Linked DNA regions of Homo sapiens. The protein of the gene in region 1 purifies or fractionates together with the protein of each later gene. This does not show direct contact. Each region holds a gene or a part of one and is shown on either strand. Other genes may lie near its edges.

Evidence for each region.
Region 2: the proteins of OFD1 (region 1) and CEP131 purify together in Homo sapiens (affinity purification with mass spectrometry; 2 studies listed by BioGRID and IntAct, with this or other methods). This does not show direct contact.
Region 3: the proteins of OFD1 (region 1) and CEP20 purify together in Homo sapiens (co-immunoprecipitation; 3 studies listed by BioGRID and IntAct, with this or other methods). This does not show direct contact.

The regions. Positions count from the first base shown.
Region 1 is NC_000023.11:13,765,415-13,770,282, reverse strand, and holds the end of OFD1 (centriole and centriolar satellite protein OFD1), read right to left. Parts: intron 3,157-4,868; coding exon 2,999-3,156; intron 2,230-2,998; coding exon 2,059-2,229; intron 1,566-2,058; coding exon 1,498-1,565; intron 1,218-1,497; coding exon 1,175-1,217; 3' UTR 926-1,174; downstream 1-925. UniProt on the Homo sapiens protein: Component of the centrioles controlling mother and daughter centrioles length. Recruits to the centriole IFT88 and centriole distal appendage-specific proteins including CEP164. Involved in the biogenesis of the cilium, a centriole-associated function.
Region 2 is NC_000017.11:81,191,342-81,199,099, reverse strand, and holds part of CEP131 (centrosomal protein of 131 kDa), read left to right. Parts: intron 1-128; coding exon 129-223; intron 224-802; coding exon 803-985; coding exon of another isoform or gene 986-994; intron 995-1,211; coding exon 1,212-1,388; intron 1,389-2,044; coding exon 2,045-2,170; intron 2,171-2,273; coding exon 2,274-2,399; intron 2,400-3,148; coding exon 3,149-3,265; intron 3,266-4,127; coding exon 4,128-4,230; intron 4,231-4,972; coding exon 4,973-5,174; intron 5,175-6,256; coding exon 6,257-6,364; intron 6,365-6,506; coding exon 6,507-6,624; intron 6,625-6,707; coding exon 6,708-6,782; intron 6,783-7,749; coding exon of another isoform or gene 7,750-7,758. UniProt on the Homo sapiens protein: Component of centriolar satellites contributing to the building of a complex and dynamic network required to regulate cilia/flagellum formation.
Region 3 is NC_000016.10:15,884,980-15,893,253, reverse strand, and holds the start of CEP20 (centrosomal protein 20), read left to right. Parts: upstream 1-4,650; 5' UTR 4,651-4,668; coding exon 4,669-4,696; intron 4,697-8,274. UniProt on the Homo sapiens protein: Involved in the biogenesis of cilia. Required for the recruitment of PLK1 to centrosomes and S phase progression.

The DNA.
Region 1 (4,868 bases):
CACACTACTTAGTATCTTCTGTTTAAGTAGCATTTTGTGCAATTATTTAAGTCACATGAGTCACCAGAGGAAAACTGTAAATAATGGTTAGATAAAATCACAAGCAGCCTCTTAATTACCCATAGTGATCCTGCCACGAAACCTAGGACCCTTTAGAGGGTTCAGTAGAGATTTTTTTCCAGTTCTGCCTTGTAAAACTTGATTTTTTAAGAGATGAAGTCAATTATAGGGAAGGAGCCCATTCATTTAAAAACAAAGGAAATACGCCCATTCATTAAGTATGAGGACCAAAGGTTCCATAATAAAGATGCTATCTCAGTCTGTTCCTGCTGCTATAGCAAAATACCTTAGACTGGGTAACTTACAAAGACCAGAAATGTATTTCTTACAGTTTTAGAGGCTGGGAAGTCGAAGATCAAGGAAGGCACTGGCAGGTTCGATGTCTGGTGAAGGCCCGGTCTCGGCTTCCAAGATGGTGCCTTGTTGCTGTGTTCTCCAGAGGGGATCAATGCAGTGTCTTCAAATGGTGCAAGGGCAAAAGGGCCTAGCTAGTTCCATTGAGCCCTTTTATAAGGTCACTAATCCCACTCTTAGTCACCTGCAAAAGGTGCCACCTCTTAATTCTATCACACGGGGGGGTTTAAATTCCAACATATGAATTTTGGAGGGACACATACATACAAACCACAGACATCAGAAGTAAAGACCAGAGGCAGTATCTTTCTTACTATTTCTAATGCCTAGAAAAATCTGTTTTTATGTTCAGGGACAAAACAGGAGTGTGCTAGGAAAAATGACCTCCTGTTTTACAGGTGGCAGCCCAACTTTGGAGAGGAAAGAACACAGCTTATACTTCCAAAATGTAGGCCTGCAGTTGAGCAGTAAGATAGGTTATACTCATTTATAAATTTAAGACAAAAATAAGGAGGTTAAAAGCCAGTTACTTTTATTATAATGAATGAGAAATACTATGACTGGAGAAGAGGTTTCACGTGACTAGATTATTCTTGGTTCACACACTATGGTATCAAAATTAATTATGGAAAAAAAAACCCACATTGGATTACACACATTTTTATTGAGTTTTGTCTGATGATAGGGAAACATTTACAAAGGAGTAAATGTTACGTAACTTCTCACGGTATGTAAGTTAGAAGCTGGGCAGCAAACATGGTTACCAAGAGTCGTCTAGTTCTTCATGAGAAAAGCCTGTTAAACTAAATTAGGGAAAGATAAAAATTAAAATGTAAAAATTTGTGTCAAGTTTATTTGCTATCTTCATAATGTTCTCAATTCCTTCCCTGGGGGGTTTCTGCCCTAGTTTACAATTTATATCAGGATCAATTTCACAAGTCAAAAAACTCAATTGTTTTTATAGTCACTAATTTTGACTGATTCAATAACTTCTTACAGGCAATCTCAAACATCTGTTTCTCTTGGCTGACAAAATAAGCAATTAACAGTTTGTGTATGAAAGTGTGTAGGGAAAACAGGTACCTTTCGACTTTGTCACTAGATTGCAGCGTGTCCACTAGGGAGCCTTCTTGGACCATCTTTTTTGAGCTCTGATTACATGGAGAGGGTGGAAAATTTTGAAATTAGATATGCATTAATTTCATGAAATACTTTAAGAACCATTTTTGAAATATATATGTAATTTAAAAGTCTAAAAAAGAGGTGACTTTTAAACATGAAATTTAGCAAGCACATCAAAATAAACTATAGGGTATGCATTTAACACCCATAATACTTCAGACTTACATAAAATATTAATGTCAGTATTAATGCATTTGATAGATCTTTTCTTTCTTAATGAGCCACCCCAACTTTTACAAATTAAAATCTCTTAAATCTTTTACCTTAAGCAAAAAAGCTATGAATTTTTGTCAAAAGAATAGTATATTTAAAAGACTCAAGGTTCCATTTGAACTTTGGATTTTCTATACTTTTCACCTTTTTGTCTTCAATGGAGAAGACGGATTCCCGTCCCAAGAAGTTAAGCCACGGAAGCCCTGGATGTCCCCCACCCACAGATTGCCCTGCCCATGGCACTGGCACCTTATCTGCCGACTCCTGGTCTTGCTCCTGCTGGATGATTTTCATGTATTTCTCTAAAGGATTTTCACTGTGAGCAGATTTGTCTTTTATTTCTTGATTACTCATTTCTAATTCATTTTCCATTTCTAATTCCTTTTTTATTTTAATCTTCAGTGATTCTTCAATCATCTTCTATAAAACAGGCACCAAAACAGAAAATACACAAATACATTTGTAAAACTTTTAAGTGTTTTAAAAATGCACTAATATTAATCCCGATCCTTCAAGTACAGCCTGTATGCCAGAGGACTAATTTTTAAAATTGAAGTCATTGCTATCATCAAAGGAAGACAAATATGTCATCTCAATGAAGGAAGGTATTAATTGGCAAGTGTCCTGTGCTTTGGACTTGAATTAACCAAGAGTCCAAGGAACATTCATATGTTAGAGTAATTCAAGCAAGACTTAGCAGGTGTGTTAAGTGGACAGAGTAATCCATCTGCTAGGACTAGAATTGGGACACAGAAGGCAAGAAGAGAAATAGAGGAAGGAGGGAGGGAGTGTGTGCCCCTGGAAGCAACTGTGAACTGGCAGCCACTCCTCCCTTGGGTTCTAGTCCCAGCTAGCTGGCACTGACAGTCTCTTCTTTAAACCCTGTTTTCAAAGCAAAGTTCTGCAGCAAAGCACAGTCTACCTTTTTTACAGGCTTGTTTTAAGGATCAGATGAGAATGTACAAAAATTACCTTCAAAAACTATCCTTTACTACAAAACTCCTAAGCTTCACATTCTGTGCAGCCTTTCCCACTGCTTTTAAGACAAGGAGAGGACAGGGATGCCTTTTAAGGCATCTGCCGCACCTCTGACTTTGTACACCAATTGACTCCCCTCCCTGAGCTCAATGTACTTACGAAAGGTGTACAATGGAGCAACCAGTTCAGAGAATCAAGTCATACTTATTACCCTTTCCTGATACAGTTTTTCTAGTTCTCTTCGTTCCCTTTCTAAAACTTCTTGTAGGTTACTCTGCCTTCTTTCTTCTCTCTGCCTTCGTTCTTTCACTTGCTGTTCCCGTATTTTTTCTTCTTCCTTTTGTTCTTCAATTTGTTTCTGATCTACACCTAATAGGACAGAAAATAAAGAGTAGCTTCCAGTATCAGATTATTCAAATGAATGCAGGACCAGTCTGCAGGAGCCCTTGCCAAGACCCACGGAGACTCTGCTTGGCTTTTAGTTGACTCTGTGACCTGCTTCAAGTCACTATTTCATTTTCACCGACTTCAAGCTCCCGACCCCACTCCTTGAACTGTACCCTACTTCACTTGACTGAGACAAATACGTCACCCTCACCATAACCAACTCCAACTGTCCTCCTTCCATGTCACATGTTCTCATCCTCTTCACAGATCTCCTCCCTCCTTTCCAAGGCAAACCCTGCATTTCTGCCTCTGCCTTTGATTATAATCCCTCCCCTATCTTTAGGACCCAGACTGAGCCATTAATCCCTATTTCTGTACACAGTAGTTTTAGAAGTCTTACTCCCATAAAGATGCTCAAGTCTGTCCTACCCCAACAAAACAGAACAGAAATCACACCACTGCCCTCCCCCCGCCATTCCAGCCATCTCACTGTTCATTCCCCACTTCCTCCAAACTGACGGCAGCCCTTCCTGGGGTTTTAGCCATCACTTGTATATGGATCCTTTCCCTATCTTTTCCTCTACTCCTGGTCTCTCTCCCTAGCCTCGCGTCCACATTTCTGATAGTTCCTTGCCATCCGCATGTGGAAACCCCACAGCACTAGCTTCGTCCCAGGCATGATCATCCCGGTCCTTCGATCATGCTCTTTCTACCCTCTATCCACTCAGCCACCAGTGTTTGCAGGTTCACACTCCCTGTCCTGTGGCTGCAACAGGGGCCCTTCTCACCATCTCCCTGGACTACTGAAACAGCCCAGTCAAGGCTCTTCCTGAAGCCAGTCTCTGCCTTCCAACAACCTGTGGTCATCTGCACCAGGCATTTCCTGAGGGGAAGATGTGGATCTGCTGTGCAGCATCTCCGCTCTGATAAGAGTCCTACGCCATGGTAGTCTGGGCTCTGACAACCTGCCCTTTTCTTCCCAGATTGATTTCCTACATCACCACCAACTTTGTACGAGAAATATTTCATCTGTACCAACCCACTCACTGGGGCCTGGCCGTGGCTCTATCTTCCTTGCTTGACATTCACCTTCACTGTCTCCTCAGCCTGTAGCACTCCCTTGCTCTCACAAAGTCTGAAATGCTATTCAAGACCCAACTGAAATGCCACCTCCTCCTTATTCCTGAAGTGACAACTAACCACTCCAGCATCTCACTTGCAGGATATCTTGTACCTGATCTGTCAAAAACTACATGTACTTGTTTCTTCCACTTCTATTCCTTCCAGGCAAGGTCCATACTTTAATTACTTGTCTGTTCCCTCTGCATCTTGGCACAGGTCCCTATATCTCAAAAGTTTTAATTAGACCCCAATCCCAGAGACAATTATGCTGACCTTTCTCTTCTGGCTCTGACCCATAACCTACATTTTTTTTTTCAACCCAAGCAATGCTAATAAGTAGAAAAATTCATAGGTTCAGCAGAGGACTTTGAACCTTTTTGCTGTGCCTTGTTCTAAAGTGATCAGCAGGAACTGAGTTTTACTAATAGGAGAGAAGCAACACAGTTTCTTCTCTCTCTCCCCCATCTCTTCTGAATCCTTCTCATGAAATTAAAATACCAGAGGAGACAGCTGATCATTTCCACAGGCAGAAATGCAACTTCCTCCTTGCTAGAGAAGAAAAAATAGTTACT
Region 2 (7,758 bases), on another chromosome or scaffold:
CAGCGGCTCCTCTGCTTCTGGGGTCGCCTCCGCCTCCCCCATGCCTGGCTCCTTCCCGGGGGTGCCTCCAGAGTTGCTGCCCGCCCCGGGATGCTCCCTGTGGAATGGTGCTGTGTTCTGCTGTGCAGGTGGTGGCCTCCCTGCTGCAGGCCCCGGAGACCGCTGCCTGCCCACCTCCGACTCATCCCCAGAACCACAGCAGCCTCCAGAGGACAGGACGCAGGTCTGAGCACAGCTGTCCTTCACTCCATCATGGTTTTTGGCTTTAAGGGCCATGTCTGTGCCAGGGGTGTCCTGAGCTGAGCTTCTCCCAGCCCCTCCTCTGCTCTAGGGGCCACTTAAGCTCAGAGAGGCCACCCAGGAGGTGTCTTCTTGCTCTGATGCATGGTGCTGGCTGCCTCTTGGGGAGCCTTTGCTGGGGTGGATCCAGTTGGGTTTTTGCAGATGTCCTGGGGTGGGGGGCCTTGCATCCTCATCCACAAAAGAGGAGCTTCCGGCTCTGAGGGGTGACCTGACAGCCAAGGCTCCCAGGCTGCTCAATGGTGGGGCCAGGTGGCTGCACTCCTGTTTTCCTGGAGTGGGGCACTGGGAGGAGTCCCCTGGTGGCTGGAGCTGCTCTGGGTTTGAGCAGCTGCAGAGACCGGGTGGGAAGGTCTGAGCCCTGGCCTCACCTTCCTGGGGCTGAATGTCGGGACTGGGGAGCTCCCGCGGCGCCTTTGGGGCTCTGCGGTTGGCCTCCTATGTGGGGGCTGCTCTCAGCTACCAGCAGCCTTGCTGCATCTGTCTCCCTGCTCTTTTGCAGGACGTTCTTGCCCAGGATGCAGCTGGGGACAACCTGGAGATGATGGCCCCGAGCAGGGGGAGCGCCAAGTCCAGGGGGCCACTGGAGGAGCTGCTGCACACACTGCAGCTGCTGGAGAAGGAGCCGGACGTGCTGCCCCGCCCCAGGACCCATCACAGGGGCAGATACGCCTGGGCCAGCGAGGTGACCACGGTGTGCGCCCGCCCTGCACAGTCTGTCCACCCACGCCATTCACACAGAGCATGCGGTGGCTGTGGGGGTTGGGAAAATGGGGATGCCACAGGCTCCTCCTGGCTTTAGTCACAACCCTCCCTCCCAGAGCCCAGCCTCAGCTGCCACCTCTGCCTTTGGGGAACCCAAGTCCTCAGGCTGCCCTGACAGCCCCCGATGCTGGGCTCCTGTCCCACAGGAGGATGACGCCAGCTCTCTGACAGCTGACAACTTGGAGAAATTTGGAAAACTCAGTGCGTTCCCCGAACCTCCTGAGGATGGGACGCTGCTATCGGAGGCCAAGCTACAAAGCATCATGAGCTTCTTGGACGAGATGGAGAAGTCTGGGCAGGACCAGCTGGACTCCCAGCAGGAGGTGGCCCCTCACCAGCCCGCACCCGGCCCCCAGTGGGAGGAGGCCCCTCACGAGCCTGCACCTGGCCCTCGGGGGAGGAGGCCCCTCACCAGCCCGCACCTGGCCCCCAGGGGGAGGAGGTCTCTCGCCAGCCCCCACCCGGCCCCCAGCAGGAGGTGGTCCCTCACCATGTACCCACCTAGTTATGCAGCACCCCCCACGGGTCTCTCAGGGTGGAGGTGGCAGGGCCCGCATTCCCCATACTGCCCCCACCTACCCGCTGCCCCGAGCTGCCTCCACGAGCCCATATGTGTGGATAGTTCAGCCCTCTGGAGCCCTGCTGTCCTCTGGGTTGGTTTGTCCTGGGTGAACACTAGCGGCCAGGCTAAATGGAGCAGTGACGTGAACTTTATTGTCACAGGGCAGGAAGCTGGGCAGCATAGAACTTTTTAAATGGTTTGTTTTTTATTCCTGAGGCCACGGCCCCCATTTCCTGTACTGAGCAATGAAAACGACCTCTGCTGGGCCGCCTGCCACCTGCCCTCCGGCTTCCCACGGGCTCCCGTGTGCAGCAGCCCCTCTGTCCCCAGAGGGCAGGGCCGCAGGGGCATCGTGTCAGGTCCTTGGCTGCCCCCCGTCCTCTGCCGCTTCCGCCTGACGCTCGGCTGTGTCTGCAGGGGTGGGTGCCGGAGGCGGGGCCGGGGCCCCTGGAGCTGGGGTCCGAGGTGAGCACGTCTGTGATGCGGCTGAAGCTGGAGGTGGAGGAGAAGAAGCAGGCCATGCTGCTGCTGCAGAGAGCGCTGGTAACGCTGCTGGCACTGCTAATCCCGGGCCCTGCTAGCCTCCTACCTGCTGAGGCCAGGCCCACCGGTCCTAGCGCTTCCCTCCTCTGCCCACACCCTGCAGGCGCAGCAGCGAGACCTCACGGCCCGGCGGGTCAAGGAGACAGAGAAGGCGCTGAGCCGGCAGCTGCAGCGGCAGAGGGAGCACTACGAGGCCACCATCCAGCGGCACTTGGCCTTCATTGACCAGGTGAGCGGCCCGGGGAGCGCAGAGGCCCGGACCCAGCGCGTGGCTCATGGAGACTTCCAGAGCCAGGGGCTTCCCACTGCCAGGGAGCTTCTTCCTCTGTTGGGTGTCACACGGGTGTCCGCTGGACGCATTCCAAGCCTTTCCCATGCCATTCCCAGCCATGCATGCCCTGGAGAGGGCACTCCTGTCTTTATCCAGAGCCGCCCCGTGTGAGTGTAGTGGGGTGTCCTGCCGGCCCCTCAGCTCAGTCGCAGCCCCGGTTGGCTCCTGTTCTGAAGAGAAGAGACCTAGAGTTGGTCTGGGGTGTGTGAGAATAGGGGCCTCCAGGGCTGCTTGATAGTTGTCACAGGTGTGTCCTGACCTGGGGTCTGGCCTGGGGCCGGCAGTGAGGCTGGTGTGGTCCTGACACCCTTTGGCAGACAGTGAGCCTCCTCCAGGGCTGGGTGATGGCCTCGGCAGAGCTACCCTCATCCCAGGAAGACCCTGACATCACTGCAGGGGGTGGGCTGGGGCTTCTCTGACATTCGCCGGGTCCCCCAGCTGAGGACAGGACGGCGGATGCAGGCCTGGGCCCGTGTTTGCACACGTGCCCCCCCACTGGCCCCAGGGTCCATCCACAAACCTAGGAGGGGCAGCCCCAGGGGAGGGCTGCTGTTAGCCTCCCTCGGAGGCTGGGAGGGTCTCCTCCATCAGGGGTCCTGCTGGGCTGGGGCCTTGGTGTAGCACCTCACCTCCGGTCCCCAACACAGCTGATTGAGGACAAGAAGGTCCTGAGTGAAAAGTGCGAGGCTGTGGTGGCCGAGCTGAAGCAGGAGGACCAGAGATGCACCGAGCGTGTGGCCCAGGCACAGGCGCAGCACGAGCTGGTGAGGCTTTGCTCCCTACTGCACGGCGTCCCAAGCCCGGCTCACAGGCCAGGCTCAGCTGGCACAGCCCCCAGAACAGGACCGGACTTGGAGTCCTCATTCCTGTCTCGGTGTGTCAGGGCCACAGCGGTGGGTGGGGCTGTCTGGGGGAGCACCGTGGCACCGAGCTGGTCCACTCCTGCCTCTCTAGCTGCCAGGCTCTGGGGCGGGGCCGTGGGCCTGCTGTCACAGATGTGGACGCACAGTCCCTGCCCGGCCACAGCACGGTAGCCGTGGACCCAGGAGCCTCTGCCTGGTCTGCCCCACTGCCAGGTCCTTGGGCCATGGGACCTGCTCTCTCTACTGACCAGGTGTCGGTGGAGCATTGACTCCCCGCCCCTTCCCGCTGTGTGAGCTCCCTGGGGGCCTCAGCCTCCCTGGCTATGCTTCCCACCAGCTTGGGCAGTGATGGTCCCGAGCCCAGGTTCTGGAGTGGGGCTTGGCACTGGCATTTTAAAATCCCTGCACGTGACTGTGGCTGACAGCCGGGGTTGAGGACTGCCAGTCCCATGGAAGAATGCAGGCTCTGGGGCCGTCCCGACAGGCAGCAGCACCCCTCTCTGGGGCAAGGCCTCTGCAGGCTGATGGCTGCCCTCCCATGTCTCAGGCCACCAAGGTGTGTGGCAGGGTGGGCCTGGGCCTCCAGCCTGGCCCCGGGCGCTGGGGAGGGCAGCAGTGGCTCTGTCTCGGGGCAGCACACCCAACCATGAGTGCCGGCCTTGTGCTGGTGGACCTGGAAGCCCGGCCCTGACTGTGCCCACAGGGTGGCAAAGGGACGGGGGTGTCCTTCGTGTCGTTTCCTCCTGCCCTGTTCTGCTCGTAGGAGATTAAAAAACTCAAAGAATTAATGAGCGCCACCGAGAAAGCCCGCCGGGAGAAGTGGATCAGTGAGAAAACCAAGAAGATCAAGGAGGTCACTGTCCGAGGTGGGCCCTCCCCTCCCATGAGCCGGCCAGGTGTGGGGTGGGTGCTGCGGCCAGGGCTTCTTTTGAGAGAGCCATAACTTCAGGCATTCATGTAGTCCGAGACCTTCCTGGGCAGAGGTGAACACTCATGCCCCAACCACCCCCGTCACGGCCTCCGCTGCGGCTTCTGCCGTGACCCGGGGGGCAGGTGGGCTCCACACAGGAGCCTGGCCCAGCCCCCAGCATCTAGGCAGTTGCCTGAAACGAGGGGGCTCAGTGCCTCACTTCCTCAGGGTTGGGCTAGGGGAGATTGGGAGTTTGTGGACGACTGTGGCACGTGGGCCCTGCCACGGGAAGCAGAGTGAGCCACAGGAGGAGGCAGGGGCAGGCAGGCGGATGGGGCAGGAGGCTGGTGGGTGTTGTGGTCTGAAGGGGCCTCGGACCCTTGGGTGATGTGCAGGGCTCCCCGAGGCCTGGTCCTCTCGCTCTGGACACCTGCCAGGGTGCCTGGGAGCCGTCAGTGGTAGCACCAGGAGTGTCAGGAGCCCTGAGCCCCACAGGCTGGGAGAGGCGCCGTGGCCCTGTGGGGGTCTCTTCCCCACCTCGTGGGCGTCAAGACTCAGCTGTGCTTCGGGTTGGATCCAAGGAGGCCCTGGGTGGGCGGGGTCCCCTCTGGGCCTGAGACAGGCTGGTCTTGTGCCAGGGTTGGACTTCCCGGGCCCACCCTAGCTGGACGTGGCCCTAGCTGGTGCCCCGCCCCCAGGTCTGGAGCCCGAGATCCAGAAGCTGATTGCAAGGCACAAGCAGGAAGTGCGGAGGCTCAAGAGCCTGCACGAGGCGGAGCTGCTGCAGTCGGATGAGCGGGCCTCGCAGCGCTGCCTGCGCCAGGCCGAGGAGCTGCGGGAGCAGCTGGAGCGGGAGAAGGAGGCGCTGGGCCAGCAGGAGCGCGAACGTGCTCGGCAGCGGTGGGTGGTGGCCCCAGGCCGGTGGGGCCAGGACCCTCAGGGCGGGGAGTCGGAATCCTCGAAGGCTGGAGTGGAGTTCCCATGTAGAGGTGGGCGAGGGTCTTAGTGCAGCATGCAGGGAGGACGCAGGGCCCTTGGCCCTGGAGTGGCCCTTGGGGGCCCAGCCTCAGCCGGGCCAGTGTCCTCGGGCTTGTGTCTGCAGTTCATGCCCGCCGAGGTCTGCAGGTTCTGCATGGGTGCACGGGTGTTTTCCCAGGGTCAGGGCTGGGAACCCCCACCAGACATCCACTCTTTCACAACTGGCCCCAGAGCAGCAACCCGTGGATAGGCGGCCTCGAGGCCCCTCCAGCTCTGACCTTGGGGCCCAGGGACGGTCTCTCTCATTCACTCCCTTGGCCTGGGGTCTGAGGGGTGACTGCTGCTCTTGCGTCCTGAGCCCTGGGGGCTGGGGACGTGCCCAGTGGTGGTCAGGATCTGCGGGCCACAGGGGGCAGTGGCAGCCCCTCCTGCACTGTCTGCGCCACCAGGACAGCCTGGAAGCCACCCTCTCCTATCCACCCTGTTGCCTGTCGTGGCTGGTCCTCCCCAGATGCAGCTTGGCTGGTCCCCCAGTCTCTCCTCGAAGGTGGGGTCAGGACGAGGCCCTGGCGCGAGCTTGCTCAGGTCACGGAGCCAGGCACCTGGCACCCTCAGGCCGGAGGCAGGGGAGGTGGATAAGGCCCCACGAGGCACCTGCCTCCCGCCCTCCATGCCCGTGGGGCAATGCTGAACAGGGTGAGGCCGGCACACGGGCTGAGGGAAAAGGGGGCCTGGACGCGGCTCCACAGCCACTTCCCAAAGTGCCACGAGGGCCTGGAGCTCAGGGAATTGCTGCGCTTGGCTGATGGGCAAGTTCCTCGTGGCCTTGCCTGCCCCCGGGCGGTGGCTTTGAGGGGCCTTGACTGCCGAGGGGGAGGGGCAGGGCCCCGGAGGGCTGCTCTCCAGCTGTGAGTCAGGCCTGTGGTCGGCCCGTGCCCCTGCGGTGGGTGGGTCCTGGGACCGCCCGTCCCGGCCCCCGAGAGCCAGTCCTGACCGTCCCGCAGGTTCCAGCAGCACCTGGAGCAGGAGCAGTGGGCGCTGCAGCAGCAACGGCAGCGGCTGTACAGTGAGGTGGCTGAGGAGAGGGAGCGGCTGGGCCAGCAGGCAGCCAGGTGCCGCCCGGGGGCACCACGCCCTCTCCCAGGGACCCCTCGCTGGCTGACCCCTCCCCCCCGCCCCCTCACCCGCTGACCTCTCCCATCCCTGACTCCTTACTCGATGACCCCTCACCTGCTGACTCCTCCCTGGCCGCAGGCAGCGGGCGGAGCTGGAAGAGCTGAGGCAGCAGCTGGAGGAGAGCAGCTCTGCACTGACCCGAGCCCTGAGGGCTGAGTTTGAGAAGGGCAGGGAGGAGCAGGAGCGCCGGCACCAGGTCTACCACCGGAGGGCTGTGCTGGGCCTGGCCAGGGGGCTGCACGGGGTGGGACTGACTGGCCTCTTATGTCCGCCCCCCAGATGGAGCTGAATACCCTGAAGCAGCAGCTGGAGCTGGAGAGGCAGGCGTGGGAGGCCGGCCGCACCAGGAAGGAGGTGGGGGCCTGGGCACCCAGGTGGGCAGGGGTTGGGGGCTGCCCTGCGTGGGCAGGAGTTGGGGGCTGCCCCAGGTGGGTTTTGCTGCTGCTGTGGCATCCTGGGGGCTCGTTTCTGGGAGTCACATCTGGCTGCTTGGGGTTGTTGTCTGAACTGACGCTGAGTGTGTTGCTTTCAGCCCATCTTTTGCGTGGGCTCTGGAAGGATCAAGGGTGCCTGGAGCGCATCCTCTGTGGTCCGAGAACAGGCGTTGCCCCTCTCGCTAGGGGCTGCTACACCCCTGCGCCCCACGACCAGCCCACTGACACTCAGATGTACCGAGAGGGACACGCACAACAGGGGCTCCCCCCTTAGCCTCTGGGGCCTTCTGTGGGGGGTGGACTCTGCCACGGTGACAGTCCCACACACATTCTCACCACCCATGCCCGCCGCGAGGCTACAGTCCAGGCTGACCGTGCCCGTCACCTGGTTTCACACCCTGGTGGGCTGGGATGTCACCGAGCAGCCAGGCAGGCTTTGGCAGTGGATGCCTCTGGGCCCAGTAGCATGCTCCCGACGTAGCCCTGTGGGGCCCAGGGCTGGACAGATGAAACTCTGGGAGTTTTCAGAGGCTTCCAGGAGGCTGCCAGCTTAGGCTCTGAATGCCTGGGCTTGGGGGCCCAGGCCCCGCCCTCAGCAACACGCAAGTCCAACTTTCCCATCCCATCTGGTAGCAGAAGGTGGCCTCAGGTTGTCATGGGCTGTGGGTCTCTGAGGGAGGGGACCGTGGGCTGTGCATCATGACGATCTCTGGTACGCCTATGCCCACACTGGGTCCTGACAACAGGACGTAGCGCACCCCTGGACAGGGGTCTGGAGAGGGGGAAGGCCCCTTGCTCCCCTGTGGCTCAGAGCCTGGAGCCCCCCAGGACCCCCTGAGGCTGGCCCTGGCCCCGCGGGCCGGCTCCGGGTGGCAACCCCCAGGCAGCGCATGTCC
Region 3 (8,274 bases), on another chromosome or scaffold:
ATGCAACACCCTTCAACAACCTCCACGTGTTCTGCTATCCAGAAGTTCTCCCAACCCAGTTCTCTTGGGTTTTTATGGGACACTTTATTACATAGGTGTGATTGAACACCGTGTAGAAATGTGATTGGACAGGCCAGACGTGGTGGCTCACGCCTGTAATCCCAGCACTTTGGGAGGCCGAGGTGGGCGGATCACCTGAGGTCGGGAGTTCGACACCAGCCTGACTAACATGGAGAAACCCCATCTCTACTAAAAATACAAAATTAGCCAGGTGTGGTTGTACATGCCTGTAATCCCAGCTACTTGGGAGGCTGAGGCAGGAGAATTGCTTGAGCCCGGGAAGCAGAGGTTGAGGTGAACCGAGATCGTGCCATTGCACTCCAACCTGGGCAACAAGAGCGGAACTCTGTCTGGAAAAAAAAAAAAATTAGCCAGGCATGGTGGTGCACACCTGTAATCCCAGCTACTTGGGTGGTTGAGACAGGAGAATCGCTTGAACCCAGGAGGGAGAGGTTGCAGTGAACGGAGACTGTACCACTGCACTCCAGCCTGGGCGACAGAGCAAGACTCCGTCTCAAAAAAAAAAAAAAAAAAGAAAGAAATCTGATTGGACAGAAAGTGCCTGATCTAAACCCAGCAAAGCCTGTCTGCTCAGACTTTTCTTGGGCTCTCTGTGCAGCATTTCTTCCTTGAGGGTAGCAGGCAGAACCCTTTCTGGAATGAGGGTCTTTTGACCCACAGTCAGATTAGAGTCCTGCTTGGGGCAGGTCAGAGGTGGACAGGAGAAGATCAGAGAGGGAGATTCTGTTTCCTGAGGCCTAAAGTGCCTCAACATTATAATGAGGTGAATGGGAGTTAGATGCCAGGAATCGTGGAGATGAAAATCAATACCTATATCATAACACCACAGGAGTGCTTTTTCTGAGGGACTTAAAAATACCACCTATGGAATTTAGTTAATCCCCAAAAATCTCTTGAAATGCTGGCCAGGTATTCAGTCACTGTGGTTTTACAGAGTAGAGAAACAAGATAGGACCTTTTCAAGGTTACAGAACAGATATGTGTCCCATAATCAAAAATTAATCCAGTCAAAAATTAATCCAGTTTGGAATAGGAAGAGATTCCTCTAGGTTACAATCACTTTCAAACTTTTCTGATGGCTGATCACTTTAAGAAATACAACAGGTACCAGAACACACATGTGTACCTGAAAGGAAAGTTCTAGAAAACCATACTTCTATGTTTTCTATTTGTTACATTCCATTTCACTGAAAATGTACTCATGGGGATCTACTAATAAATAGATTTCAAAACCTACTATTTGGTTAACCAGCAGTTTAAAGAGCATTATCCTAGACTCTAGGTCAAGATACTCTGCCTGGCCCCCCTTTTTTTTTAAGTCTCAAGAAAAAGTAAGAGAGAAAGAGGAAAGAGAGAGAGAAAGAAAGAAAGAAAAGAAAGAAAGAAAGAAAGAGAAAGAGAGAAAGAGGGAGGGAGGGAGGGAAGGAAGGAAGGAAAGGGAAAGGGCGGGGAGGAAGGAAGGAAGGAGAGAGAGAGGAGGGAGGAAAGGAAGGAAGGAAAGAAGGAAGGAAGGAAGGAAGGAAGGGAAAGAAAAGGCATCTCCCCTTGTCACCAGGCTAGAAATGCAGTGTTATGGTCATGGCTCACTGTAGCCTCCACCTCCTAGGCTCAAGCAATCCTCCTGCCTCAGCCTCCCGAGTAGCTCGGACTACAGGGACACATGCCAGGCTAATTTTTTGTTTTGTTTGCTCGGTTTTTTTGTTTGTTTGTTCGTTTTGGTTTTTTTTGACACGGAGTTTCACTCTTGTCGCCCAGGCTGGAGCACAGCGGCGTGATCTCGGCTCACTGCAACCTCCACCTCCCAGGTTCAAACGATTCTCCTGCCTCAGCCTCCCGAGTAGCTGGGATTACAGATGCCTGCCACCATGCCCAGCTAATTTTTGTATTTTTGGTAGAAATGGGGTTTCACCATGTCGGCCAGGCTGGTCTCAAACTCCTGACCTCAGGTGATCTGCCCTCCTCGGCCTCCCAAAGTGCTGGGATTACAAGCGTGAGCCACCGTGCCTGGCTGTTTGCTCTTTTGTTTTGTTTTGTTTTGTTTTGAGTCGGAGTCTTACTCTGTTCCCCAGGCTGGAGTGCAACCTCTGCACCCCTGGCTCACTGCAACCTCTGCCTCCTGGGTTCAAGCAATTTTCCTGCCTCAGCCTCCCGAATAGCTGGGATTACAGGCCTCTGCCACCACGCCCGGCTAATTTTTGTATTTTTAGTAGAGATGGGGTTTCACTGTGTTGGCCAGGCTGGTCTCGAATTCCTGACCTTGTGATCTGCCTGCCTCAGGCCTCCCAAAGTGCTGGGATTACAAGCGTGAACCACCGCACCCGGCCTTGTTTGCTCGTTTTTAAAGACAGGTTCTCCCTATGCTGCCCAGGCTGTTCCCCCTCCCTTTAAAAAAAATAGTTAACAATTATTGATTGTATATTTCAAAATAGCTAGAATACTTGTAATGCTTCCAACACAAAGAATGTTTGAGGTGATGTTTATCCCAATTGCCTTGACTTGATAATTACACATTGTATATGTGTATCAAAATATCACGTCCCTCCCCATAATTGTGATATATCAATTTTTCTTTCTCTCTTTTTCTTTTCTTTTTTTTTTTTTTTTTTTTTTTTTTTTGAGAAAGGGACTCACTCTGTCGCCCAGAGTGGAGTGCAGTGGTACAATCAGCCGTCCAGGCTCAAGTGATCCTCTCTCCTCAGCCTCTCGAGTAGCTGGCATGCACCATCATATCTGGCTAATTTTTTTTTTTTTTTGTAGAAATGCGTCTCATGTTGCCCAGCTTGGTCTAGAACTCCTGAGCTCAAGCAATCCTCTATCCTCGGCCTCTGGAGTAACTGGGACTACAGGCATGCACCACCATGCCCGGCTAATTTTTTGTATTTATTTTGGAGAGATGGGGTCTTGCATTGCCCAGGCTGATCTCAAACTCCCGAGCTTAAGCAATCCTCCCTCCTCGTCCTCCCAAAGTGCTGGGATTACAGGGATGAGCCACCGCACCTGGCCAATGTATCAGTTTTAAAAACAATAGGCATGGAACCAAAAGTATGCTGGAAGTTCCTCGGAAAGAGGTTTCCTTGCTCTTAGGTGGTTTTTTTTTTTTTTTTTTTTTGAGGCGGTGTCTCGCTCTGTCGTCCAGGTTGGAGTGCAGTAGCGCGATCTCATCTCACTGCAACCTCTGCCTCCCAGGTTCAAGCGATTCTTGTGCCTCAGCCTCCCAAGTAGCTGGGATTACAGGCTCCTGCTACCACGCCCGGCTAATTTTTGTACTTTTTTTTTAGTACAGAGGGGGTTTCACCAGGCTGGCCAGGCTGTTCTCGAACTCCTTACCTCAGTCTCCCAAAGTGCTGGGATTCCAGGCGTAAACCACCGTGCCCTGGCAGCTCTTAGGTGTACTTTTTTTTTTTTTTTTTTGAGACGGAGTCTCACTCTGTCGCCCAGGCTGGAGTGCAGTGGTGCCATCTCGGCTCACTGCAAGCTCCACCTCCCGGGTTCACGCCATTCTCCTGCCTCAGCCTCCCGAGTAGCTGGGAGTACAGGCGCCCGCCAGCACGCCCGGCTAATTTTTTGTATTTTTAGTAGAGACAGGGTTTCACCGTGTTAGCCAGGATGGTCTCGATCTCCTGACCTCGGGATCCGCCCGCCTCGGCCTCCCAAAGTGCTGGGATTACAGGCGTGAGCCACCGCGCCCGGCCACTCTTAGGTGTACGTCTAATCGATGTTTATTATTTAGCCAAGTGTTTGGATCTCACCGGCATTACAACTGGAATCATGCAACCTCACACTCAGTTTAGGGTACATTATTCCCCTGTTCCTTTTCCTTTACTTCCATGGGATGTTGGAGCTTATTCCTTCATTAGTTAGTTCCATAAAAAGCTCCTGGACTCCTTACATGCACTGTGTAAGTGCGAGTGGAAGAGGACAGGCTGGTGACCTTGGTTAAGTCTCTTCAGCGATGGAGGACTCTGTTTCCTTCATTGTAAAAACGGCGTGATCATAAGGAAATAATGCGCTAAGGCGTCACAGTAAGTGCTTAATACAGTGGTTCTCGAGGTGTGATCTCCAGACCGACCAGCAGTACCAGTACCACCTGGGAACTCGATAGAAATGCAAATCCTAGGGCCTCACCCCAGATTTACAGAATCAGAAACTCTATGGGGAGGACTAGCAAACAATCCGTTTAAACAAGTCTTGGAGGTGATGAGGATTCATGCTCAAGTTTGAGAACCGCAGGGTTAATAGGTGGTAACTACTAGCAGTTGGTACTTGAGGCTGCAGAGACAATGAAAAACTCAGCTGGCTAAAGTTAAGCACTAAGGTGCCAGCAGCACCCCACAGGGCTCTCCACTGCCTCAGTCCCCGCCCTCCCTGCCGTCTCACTCAACTGGGCCTTCCGAGAGCGCTCGCTGATTGGTGGAGTCTCTGGTCGACATTCACTACCCACTCAACCGCAGAGCTCATAAACTGAGAGGGGCGGAAGTGGGCGGGGCGAGAGCTGTGCGCCTATTGGCTACAGACCACGCCGCAGGGTGAGTGGGGCGGAGCTGCGCGTGCGCAGGGCCGCGGTGCGGCCCTGGCGGCCGTTGAAAAATGGCGACTGTGGCAGAGTTGAAGGCTGGTGAGTGCGAGCAGGGAGGCCTCCACATGGGAAGCGTCGGGCCTTCATCTTGTGGAAAGGATGGGATGGGAGGAGAGCGCGCGGAACACATGGGTTGGCTTTTACAGGCGTCATTCTTCGGTGTGAGGGCCTGCGGGGAGCGTCTGGCTGCTGTCTTGGCCCGTGCGCGGGGAGCTCTTATGGGGAAGAGGTTGCCCACTGGCGAGTTTTAAGCCAGTTTGGAGCTAAAGGAGGAGTTGCGTAATCTTCAGGCATCTAAGAGGCCTACAGGCCTGCATCTTGGGCCCCTGGCTCATCTTCTTGGACCCTGCCGGGGGCTGGAGGACTTGGACCAGGCTTGGCACTCAGGGCTGATGACTACAATTCCCACAACCCCTATTGGGTTAGGCACTGCCCTAAACAATTTGCTTGGTTGTCTCGTTGGGTCCTTACAACAACCTGTTAAGTAGCCCTCCCCTCCTTGCTTTTTTTTTTTTTTTTTAAAGAGAGGGTCTCTCTGTCGCCCAGGCTGGAGTGCAGTAGCGCGATCACAGCTCACTGCAGCTTCGAACTCCGGGACTCCAGCTATCCTCCCACCTCAGCTTCCAGAGCAGGTGGGAATACAGGGGCTCTTCACTACGCCCGGCTAATTTTTGTATTTTTTGTAGACACGGGGTCTTACTGTCGAACTCCTGGTCTCAAGCTATCCTCCTGCCTTGGCCCCCTCAAAGTGCTGGGATTACAGGTGTGAGCGCCTGGCCCCTTTTTCATCAGAAGAAACTAGAGGCAAAAAGTTTGCTGGCCTGGCCATTCTCCTGTCTTTTCAGGAAAAGATACTCTAAGCTAGTTATGTTTGAGTCATTAATGACATTTGTACGCTGTTTACTTTGAAGCAAATGTCCAGACAAGTAATAGTAATAATAGTTATCATTGAGCCTCATGTGTCAGGCACTACTCAACTCAGCCTGTGTGTTACCTGATTGTAACAACCCTATGCCCATTTCATAGACTGGGAAACGAGGTACTGAGAAGTGAAATAGCTCAAAGTGATTTCACTGGAAAGAGACACAGCATGGGAACCTAGTTGTGACGCACTGGAGCGCCAGGTCTTAATCACTGAGCAAGATTGCTGTCCAAAAAATAAAACCAGTTCCACTTTGCAGGGAACCCAGGGTTTAAACTAGTAATTCTTAGATATTTTAGGGAGGAGACGTGTATAAAAGTGTGTATTTGGGGACAGGGCTGGTGAACAATCATAAAACAGAACAGGCATGCATCTGTCCACAAGAACAGACTTCACGAGTCTACAGATGCTGTTCCCAGGGAAATACACATCACATGTAATATTGCATACATTTTCAGAGGATTTAAAGGTACACTTGGAATGGGCCAAGCACAGTGGCTCATGCCTGTAATCCTAACACTTTGGGAGGATCGCTTGAGCCCAGAAGTTTAAGACCAGCCTGGCCAACATGGTGAGACCCCATCTTTATTTAAAAAATAAAAATTAAAAAAAAGAGCCGGGCATAGTGGCCTGTGGTAGTTCCAGCTACCCCACAGGCTGAAACAGGAAGATAGCTTGAGCCCAGGAGATAGAGGTGACAATGAGCTACAGTGGTGCCACTGCACTCCAGCCTGGGCAACAAAATGAGACCTTGTCTCAAAAAAAAAAACAAATTAAAAAATAAAATAAAAAAGGTACTCTTGAAATATAAGCGAGGTTAAGACCTTTCCGAAGAAGTTTTGATGGCGCAGTGTTCTAAGCATAATAGAGGGAAAGGTAAAATGCTATGGACCTCCAAAAGAAACCCGGTGAAAACTTGTTTGCCAGCCAGTTACCTTACATTTTATGGGCATTTACCTTTTTTAAGCACGATCACGTTTTTCCTTCTTACTTGGTTCTATCTCTGAGAGGTAGAGCTCATTATTTTAGAGAAGGCAACTGAGGCATGGGTTGGTAATCCACCACTGAGGTGCTGATGAGACATGCTAGCTTTCCTCATTCCACTGTCACTAATTCTCGTTTCTCTGTCCAGTTTGAGGCTGTCCTGTGTGCAATACAGAGTAATTGGGACAGGATCCTTGCCAGTGACAAAATCTCTCCATCCAATTTCCAAAGATGGAATTAGAGAATAGGGGTTCAGTTATGATTCTAAGAGTACAATAAGGCTGTACCTTCCTTTTATGGACCTGTTACAAACTCTGATCTGGTGATAACTGTACTTAACCTATCTGCAAGAAGGTTGAAGGGATGCTTTAAAAATGAGGGGAAAGAAAGGTCAAAAGTCAGTGAAGATTCTATCTCTTTAGTCATATGATCCAGGGTTATTGTTGACGTTATTTATTGAAGCTTAGAAAGATCTTATGTCCATACTGACTTGGATAAGCTCCTGGGCTCTCTTTATGGATTTTTGTTATTGTGATGTACTTACTTGGTGCCTTTGGCAGGGTGCAGAACAGTGTTAAACTACATTGATTTCCCAGTAGTGTACAGCAATGTATTATAATCCTTCTAGGTGACACCTACTGAGCTCTTGCTCTGTTCTTGACTCTGTGGATGAGATGTGTTCATTCTCTGAAGTTGTCATTTAGCCAGTAGGAACTGTTTGAAAATAAAAGTTGCAGATCACTACAAGGGATGGTGCCAATTCAGTCCTAAGATCCCCATTATCTATACTAAGTATGTACAGCCAAATCCCATGATCATAACTGCTTTGTCATGGTGACTCTGGCTAATCAGTAAGTTAGATTTCCATTCTGCATACACATCCCTGACTCCTTAAGATGGCATTGATACAGTCACGTGGTAGATTTCTAACTAGGCTTAAAATTTCAGAATCCTACTGTTCTAAGGAATTAACTCATAGTTGTCTTTAAAACAACGAGGCCAGTGGGCGCAGTGGCTCATGCCTGTAATCCCAGTACTTTGGGAGGCTGAGGCGGGTGGATCACGAGGTCAGGAGATGGAGACCATCCTGGCCAACATAGTGAAACCCTGTCTCTACTAAAAATACAAAAATTAGCCAGTCGTGGTATCGCACACCTGTAATCCCAGCTATTTGGGAGGCTGAGGCAGGAGAATTGCTTGAACCAGGGAGCCTGGAGATTGCAGTGAGCCGAGATCGTGCCACTGCACTCCAACCTGGCGACAGAGCGAGATTGTTTCAAAATAACAACAATGAAAAACCCAACACCTTTTCACTCCCTAAAGCGTTGTGGATTATCAAAGGTTTGTGTTTTTTTTTTTGGTTGGTTGGTTGGTTGGTTGTTTTAAACAGAGTCTCACTCTTTCGCCCAGGCTAGAGTGCAGTGGCACCACCTCAGCTCACTGCACCCTCCACCTCCCAGGTTCAAGTAATTCTTGTGCCTCAGCCTCCCAAGTTGCTGGGACTACAGGTGCGTGCCACCACACCCGGCTAATTTTTTGTATTTTTTTAGTAGAGAGGGGGATTTCACCTTGTTAGCCAAGATGGTCTCAATTTGCTGATCTCGTGATCCGCCCGCCTGAGCCTCCCAAAGTGCTGGGTTACAGGCATGAGCCACCATGCCCTGCCATCAAGGTTTTTACACAGTAACCCAACAGACTTCTTTTATGGAAT